Regions from separate parts of the Homo sapiens genome. Here region 2 is reported to be linked to region 1. The links are microRNA targets in miRTarBase. Many come from high-throughput screens and were not tested one by one. Region 1 holds a microRNA gene; the other region holds the end of a gene's coding sequence.

Region 1 (4,152 bases):
CCATGTGAGAGAGGAACGGGCATCACCTGAAGGAAAGGATGATGTCTCAGGACTTTCTAAGAGCAACAGAATGTTGGAAACTATCCATGGTAGGGATGCAGTTGGCTAGTTACAATGCTTGACATCCCTTCATCTAGTGGCCATGGGACTCCAAGGTATCTTTCCATAAAGAACCAAAGCCAAACTCACAATCTGCCTAAACTGCTATTCTCAGCTTTCAAGAGGAAGATGACTGTTAATACCCAAGAGTAAGAATAAGAAGCAAGGGTTCTATAGCTAACTCATGCCTTCTTTCCACAGCTCACTCTTATTCAGCAATATGGGCTCCCTTAGCTCCAACCCTCAAATCCCCACCTGGGCACCTTTACCTTGTTCTCTCTCCACCCTGGGACACTCTCTCCTGCCTATTAATGAGGCAGGCTCAGTCTTATGCTTTATAGCTCAGTCATCTACTTAAGGAGGCCTAAAAGCTCTGTCCAAAGACAAAACCTCCATCCTAGCAAGATAGTCTGCCTTTGTTTACTTCATAGCATATATCCCAATCCATAATTATTTTTATATTTGTTTCCTATTTACTACCTATATCCACCACTAGCATGGATACTTTTAAGCTACTTGATCATCTACTATATCCCCAGAGCCATGAAAACATCATACATAGTAAGTGCTCAGCAAATTACTTGCTGAATGAATGAAGTATATCCATATAGACTGAAGCAAAATCTAAGACATTCCTCTAAATTTAATATTTGTAAGATTTTTTTTAAATGACAAGATTTTTATGTATGACCTGTGATCATTTTAGTATATTCATAACATGTGGATGTATGCAGAAGATGGACTCATTCCACACAAAAATGCCATTGTACAAATACTATCTGTTGAGGCAGCCCAGCAGGTACTACATGACAAATAGGAGGCAAAAATAATATTGCAAATCACCACAGCTATAGAGAAAACATAGTATCACTTACATCATATTGATGTAAGCTGAAATCTGTCCAGAGCTGAGGCTAATCATTTGTGAAAAGCAGCTGACAATATAGAAAGAACAAGCATCTAAGTTATATATGAACTATTTTCACCATTCTCCTTATAAAGTTTTAAAAATAATATGAAAACCAGCAGGATTGCCTGAAATGTGAAAAGAACACTGACGATTTTTATTGTGATTTTTAGTGGAAACATTTTAGTTATGTAAAAACTGTTAAAGGGATAGTCTTTGTACCCTAAAAAAGAACTCTGCTGAACATTGTCATTCACATATATATATATATATACATCTGAGATATTTTATTAGGATGCATTCCTATATTAGGAATTACAGAACTAAAGAGGATGGACTTTTAACATATATTTTAACATAGCTCTCCAGAAATAAAAAGTTCTTGACCACTGATGGAGTCCGGATATTTGTCCTCATCCAAATCTCATGTTGAAATGTAATCCCCAATGCTGGAGGTGGGGATTACACTTCAACAGGAGATTTGGGAGGTATTTGGATCACGGAGGCAGATCCCTCATGAATAGCTTGGGCCATCCTCTTGGTGATGAGTGAGCTCTTCTTCTGAGTGTATGGCACCTTACCCCCAACTCTCTCTCTTTTGTTCTGGCTCTGGTCACGTGACAAAGACTGTTCCTTCTTCACCTTTCACCATGATTGTAAGCTCCTGAGGACTCCCCAGAAGCCGAGCAGATGCCAGAACCATGGGTCCTATAAAGCCTGAAGAATCATGAGCCAATTAAACCTCTTTGTTTTATAAATTATGCAATCACAGGTATTCCTTTATAGCAATGCAAGAATGGTCTAATATAATCAGTGACACTAATCATCAATATTATCTTATTAATTTTCCCAGTTTATTCAACATCAAAACCAGTACATTTTAGTTAAACTCACATTAAATGTTTGTATTTTTTTCATTTTATGAGTTGTCTGTCTGTATTTTTTTCCACTTTTATCTCAGTATGCTCATCTTCTTTTGTTGTTGTTTGACTGGAATACGTGTTGCAAGTAATTTTTCCAGCTTCTCATTTGCATCTTTTTTATGATGGTGTTAGATATGCCAAAGTTTTGTGTCATGTGAAGTATTATCTACTGATACTCCCCTTAGAATTTTTAAAAATTAATTTTATGCTTATAAACTTCTCTGCCATTTTGCAATCTTCTATTTACGTATTTGTTTTCTAGATGACTAACATGGCTTTTTCACAATCAAGTTCATAACGCAGCTGAATTTGCATACTTACCTAACTTGAAAATTTTCTCTCAAATAGTGAGTTATCCTAGAAGCATTTAATAGAAAATGCTTTGTTTCTTAACTGACTTACAAGCTACCCTTTTGTATACTAAATCCTTTGATGTGCTAGGTTCTCCTCCAAGTTTCTTGCAGACAACCAAGAACAAAATGAAAGAGAAAGAAAGTGAACAAAAGTAGAGTTTAAAAAGCTACAGCCTTTCAAGGTCAACATTTTAAAGTAAAACAGCATCTTTTTCTTTGAAATCTTATGGATTCCCACAGTGTAAAACATGCTTCTATCTAATAATCAGTATTAAAGAATCTATTAAGAAATTTCAATGATTTTTGTTTCCCTTGGCTGAGCTCTCATTATGGACTGTTTTGCTGCTTCCTTTCTCTATGAAGAAAAATCATTCATTGCTAGTGTTTTCTCAGTGTTACAATGCTTTTCCAATAAGCGTTCATTCTAGTGGTGTGTGCTTCCTCATCAACAAACATGAAATTTATCTTCTTAAATATCAAGAGTTCAGGTTATTACAAAACCTAAGGCTTACAGTGTGGTATAGTCCAAAATCATACTCCATAAACTACTGGAAAATTAATCAAATTATATTACATGAAGTTTTTATATACTCATATCTTTTGACTTGAGGTATTTCAAATATTTGAGAATCTCTTATAGACCTCATTTCAACTTTAATTTTTCTGTCTCATGTGTTTGGTCCATTTATGTGATTTGCCTGGGACATTAATGAAATTCTCAAGAATGTTAATTTTCAGAAAATATAAATCCCTGAAAAGTTAGCAATTTAGAGATTATTCAGGAATATAATTTTGTGCTAGTTTCTAACGTAATATTGCAATTATATTAACTGAAGACAAAATATTGCCACCTAGACTTCAAAAAACATCTTAAAGGTAGTTGCAGAACTGTTAAGAAAACAACCTAAAAACAGTAGCCATTAACATATTAAAAATGATATAAAAATTAAGAATACATGCTAAGCTGGAAATTTAAAACATCATTTAGAAACCAGACACTTTGACTGGAGGCAGCTGTTGCCTCTCTTTTTGACTTAAACTTTTATTTAACTCATTCTACTAAAATTAATATCCCCACGAAAAGAGAGTTATAACCATAACTTTTAATGAGGCTCAGTTTTGCCCCTTTCTTTTTTCTCTGTTTTACATATTTTGTTTGTAAAGTGACTGTTAGAAACATTTATAGAAATTTACACATTTGAAATGCAGAGTGCTATAATTACGTGAGTGTAGGTTCTTTGCTATGGTTTGAATGTCAGATCCTCCAAAATTCATGTTAAAACCAAATCACCACAGTGACAGCATTGAAAGACAGGGCCCCTGGAAGGTGATTAGGTCATGAGGCTCCTTCACCATAAATGGATAAGGCCCTTCTGAAAAGGGCTTTCAGGTCTCTGCCATGAGAGGACACAGCCTTCCTCCCCTACAGAGGAGGCAGCCCTCATCCAACAACCGAACATGCCTGCACCTTGATCTTGGACTTCCCTGCCTTTTGAATGGTAAGAAAATAAATTTCTGTTCTTTATAAAGTACACAGTGTATGGTATTTTGCTACAGCAGCACAAACAAATGAAGATATTCTTTAATAACTGTTCAAATTAGAGATTCTGTGAATCACATAATTACCAGGAAAGGACTTGAGGAAGTATTCCAAAGGCCATCTTTCAGAAAACAAAACAAAACACACTCTCCAACAAAGCAACACCCCCAAATCTGTCTTTTGTTGAGGGTCTGTGATGCCTAACATGACACCATCCAGGATCATGTCTTCCGTTAAGGTCTCAGGAAAAGCTCAATACTTCTAAGGGAGTGTCTTTGTCATTGAACATAGGTAAAATCAGTTCTACAAACTGTTTGAAAATATAGAGTT
Region 2 (4,000 bases), not on the chromosome of region 1:
GAGGCTTTTCTTGGCCGGGCGCCGTGGCTCACACCTGTAATCTCAGGACTTTGGGAGGCCAAGGCGGGTGAATTGCTTGAGGTCAGGAGTTCAAGACCAGCCTGGCCAACATGGCAAAACCCTGTCTCTACTAAAAATACAAAAAATTAGCTGGGCATAGTGGTGCACGCCTGCAGTCTCAGTTACTTGGGAGGCTGAGGCACGAGAATCACTTGAGCGTGGGAGGCAGAGGTTGCAGTGAACCAAGATTGTACCACTGCACTCCAGGCTGGGTGACAGAGCAAGACGCTGTCTCAAAAGAATATTGAGGCTTTTCCCCTCATTATTCCAGTGTTCAAATAGGGTGAAAACTATGTGGATGGTTTTATTTGCGCCTAGGTCCTCTGTGTTAGAGTACTCAAGTCCTGCTCTGTGTGCACTTCCTTTCACTTGTTTTTATTTCCTCATAGTGCTCTACGGAAACGTATTCGAGAGGACAGAAAGGCCACCACAGCTCAGAAGGTGCAGCAGATGAAACAGAGGCTAAATGAGAATGAACGAAAAAGAAAAAGGTGGTTATATTGGCAACCTATTCTCACTAAGATGGGGTTTATGTCAGTCATTTTGGTTGGCGCTTTTGTTGGCTGGACACTGTTTTTTCAGCAAAATGCCCTATAAACAATTAATTTTGCCCAGCAAGCTTCTGCACTAGTAACTGACAGTGCTACATTAATCATAGGGGTTTGTCTGCAGCAAACGCCTCATATCCCAAAAACGGTGCAGTAGAATAGACATCAACCAGATAAGTGATATTTACAGTCACAAGCCCAACATCTCAGGACTCTTGACTGCAGGTTCCTCTGAACCCCAAACTGTAAATGGCTGTCTAAAATAAAGACATTCATGTTTGTTAAAAACTGGTAAATTTTGCAACTGTATTCATACATGTCAAACACAGTATTTCACCTGACCAACATTGAGATATCCTTTATCACAGGATTTGTTTTTGGAGGCTATCTGGATTTTAACCTGCACTTGATATAAGCAATAAATATTGTGGTTTTATCTACGTTATTGGAAAGAAAATGACATTTAAATAATGTGTGTAATGTATAATGTACTATTGACATGGGCATCAACACTTTTATTCTTAAGCATTTCAGGGTAAATATATTTTATAAGTATCTATTTAATCTTTTGTAGTTAACTGTACTTTTTAAGAGCTCAATTTGAAAAATCTGTTACTAAAAAAATAAATTGTATGTCGATTGAATTGTACTGGATACATTTTCCATTTTTCTAAAGAGAAGTTTGATATGAGCAGTTAGAAGTTGGAATAAGCAATTTCTACTATATATTGCATTTCTTTTATGTTTTACAGTTTTCCCCATTTTAAAAAGAAAAGCAAACAAAGAAACAAAAGTTTTTCCTAAAAATATCTTTGAAGGAAAATTCTCCTTACTGGGATAGTCAGGTAAACAGTTGGTCAAGACTTTGTAAAGAAATTGGTTTCTGTAAATCCCATTATTGATATGTTTATTTTTCATGAAAATTTCAATGTAGTTGGGGTAGATTATGATTTAGGAAGCAAAAGTAAGAAGCAGCATTTTATGATTCATAATTTCAGTTTACTAGACTGAAGTTTTGAAGTAAACACTTTTCAGTTTCTTTCTACTTCAATAAATAGTATGATTATATGCAAACCTTACATTGTCATTTTAACTTAATGAATATTTTTTAAAGCAAACTGTTTAATGAATTTAACTGCTCATTTGAATGCTAGCTTTCCTCAGATTTCAACATTCCATTCAGTGTTTAATTTGTCTTACTTAAACTTGAAATTGTTGTTACAAATTTAATTGCTAGGAGGCATGGATAGCATACATTATTATGGATAGCATACCTTATTTCAGTGGTTTTCAAACTATGCTCATTGGATGTCCAGGTGGGTCAAGAGGTTACTTTCAACCACAGCATCTCTGCCTTGTCTCTTTATATGCCACATAAGATTTCTGCATAAGGCTTAAGTATTTTAAAGGGGGCAGTTATCATTTAAAAACAGTTTGGTCGGGCGCGGTGGCTCATGCCTGTAATCCCAGCACTTTGGGAGGCTGAAGTGGGCAGATCACCTGAGGTCAGGAGTTCAAGACCAGCCTGGCCAACGTGGTGAAACACCATCTCTACTAAAAATGCAAAAATTAGCTGGGCATGGTGGAGGGCACCTGTAATCTCAGCTACTCAGGAGGCTGAGGTAGGAGAATTGCTTGAACCCAGGAGATGGAGGTTGCAGTGAGCTGAGATCACGTCACTGCACTCCAGCCAGGGCGACAGAGCGAGACTCCATCTCAAAAGAAACAAACAAAAAAAACAGTTTGGGCCGGGTGTGGTGGCTCACGCTTGTAATCCCAGCACTTCGGAAGGCCAAGGCGGGCGGATCACGAGGTCAAGAGATGGAGACTGTCCTGGCCAACATGGTGAAATCCCTTCTTTACTAAAAATACAAAAATTATCTGGGCGTGGTGGTGCATGCCTGTAGTCCCAGCTCCTTGGGAGGCTAAGGCAGGAGAATCACTTGAACCCGGGAGGCAGAGGTTGCAGTGAGCCGAGATTGCACCACTGCACTCCAGCCTGGCAACAGAGCAAGACTTCGTCTCAAAAAAAAAAAAAAAAAAAGTTTGAAAACCATTGGTATAGATAGATATTTTGAATTGATTTGCATAGTCTCCTTGAATGTGTTAAATTATGTTGAAAGTATGAAAGCAGGATGTAGGTGGTACTACATATTAAATAAGATTTATATAACATGTGCCTGTGTCCTGATTCAGTATTACTGTGTCCTGTAACCTTGAAATGGAGAGGAGGTAAGAGGGACATTTTTTTATGTCTGTCTGCATTAAACCTGTGTTGAGGCATCCAAGACCCTTACATTTCAGGTTGTTATTGGTTTAAAACCTCTTTCCAGTTTGCATTGGTTTGTCTTTGCTAAATGCAGTATGTTTATGTTACTCTGCAAGTCACATACAGGTAGACCTTATGACATTTCCAGTTGAAACTAGGCTTGCTTTCGGTACACAGGTGAAGACTTGAGGAAGCCAGTGCCAGAGAGGACGTGCCTCACCCCTCAGCTGGCTGAATGCGCTTCATTGGCTTACGCTTTGCTTTCTGTATGCTTTCTGTCCTTCTGGGTGGTGTCGCATATATTTTTAAAACCACATTCAGTGTGATGAACACTTGTTGGTACACTTCTAAGGTTAGTCATCTTTCCTTCTCTGAGCAGATCCTTGAGAAGGGCATTGACAGTGGATGCTTTAAATAGTGTTCAGTTTTTACCAGTAATAATATTTTTTGGTGGATGTCATGAAAACACATGACATCGTGTTGTGCCCATGATAAAAAGTCCTGACTTTTTATTGAATGAGGTGTGCTGGTCAAAGAGACAGACGTGGCTGCCTTCTCTGGTAACAGCCAGAGGAAAAAGTTAGCAATTCTAGATGGGTTCTACAGCTTTAAAAAACTTGTTGTATCCTTAGGTCCTCATAATATTAAATATTTTCTAATTTTAACAGATTTTAAGAGTCAGATATATACTTTGACTTGAATGATGTAGTGTTGCTTAAGGAAGAAAAAATTATAAAAAAAATGTTTCTTTTATTTTCAGGAGTTTTTAATTCATATCTAGTTCATTTCCACTCATATCTATTTCTGCTAATAGATTGACAGCAACCTTTGGTTTAATGCTGTGTTCTCTAGCTACACCAACAAGTTATATATTCCTTTCCAATATTAACCAAGTATTTATTTTATGTTAGCCTATGACTGAGTTTTATCTATGCTTGCACATATATAGAATGTAAAAATATAATTCTCCATGTTTAATGTATCCATATAAAAATGAAAATACCCATTTTCTGCATTCTTAAAGGGTTAAGAAAAGTAACATGTAATAAGCACATGGAGGACTTTAGACCATTTCTTGTGTTAGAGGAGACTTTATACATTTGTGAGGTTTTCTGTCTTTTGG

The links. Region 1 holds the annotated microRNA hsa-miR-1267 (CCUGUUGAAGUGUAAUCCCCA, at 1,463-1,483, opposite strand). A microRNA usually pairs through its seed, bases 2 to 8, with sites in the 3' UTR of a target mRNA and lowers its output. Matches are read on the target gene's strand: a 7mer-m8 pairs with bases 2 to 8, a 7mer-A1 pairs with bases 2 to 7 and ends in A, and an 8mer does both.
Region 2: the mRNA of PTPN2 is a reported target of hsa-miR-1267. Seed matches in the 3' UTR shown: 7mer-A1 at 2,612-2,618.

Annotation. Positions count from the first base shown.
Region 1 is chr13:107,529,755-107,533,906 of GRCh38, forward strand. It overlaps MIR1267 (microRNA 1267), which reads right to left and starts at 1,494; the gene lies at 1,417-1,494. All of the region lies in intron 1 of NALF1 (NALCN channel auxiliary factor 1), which reads right to left. It overlaps LOC112268110 (a long non-coding RNA gene), which reads right to left. Exons shown (of 3, transcript XR_002957493.2): 1 at 1-4,152.
Region 2 is chr18:12,790,935-12,794,934 of GRCh38, reverse strand. PTPN2 (protein tyrosine phosphatase non-receptor type 2) reads left to right here. Exons shown (of 9, transcript NM_002828.4): 9 at 450-2,783. The coding sequence ends at 657. Among named protein-coding and RNA genes, the nearest start is that of LINC01882, 44 kb to the right of the region's middle.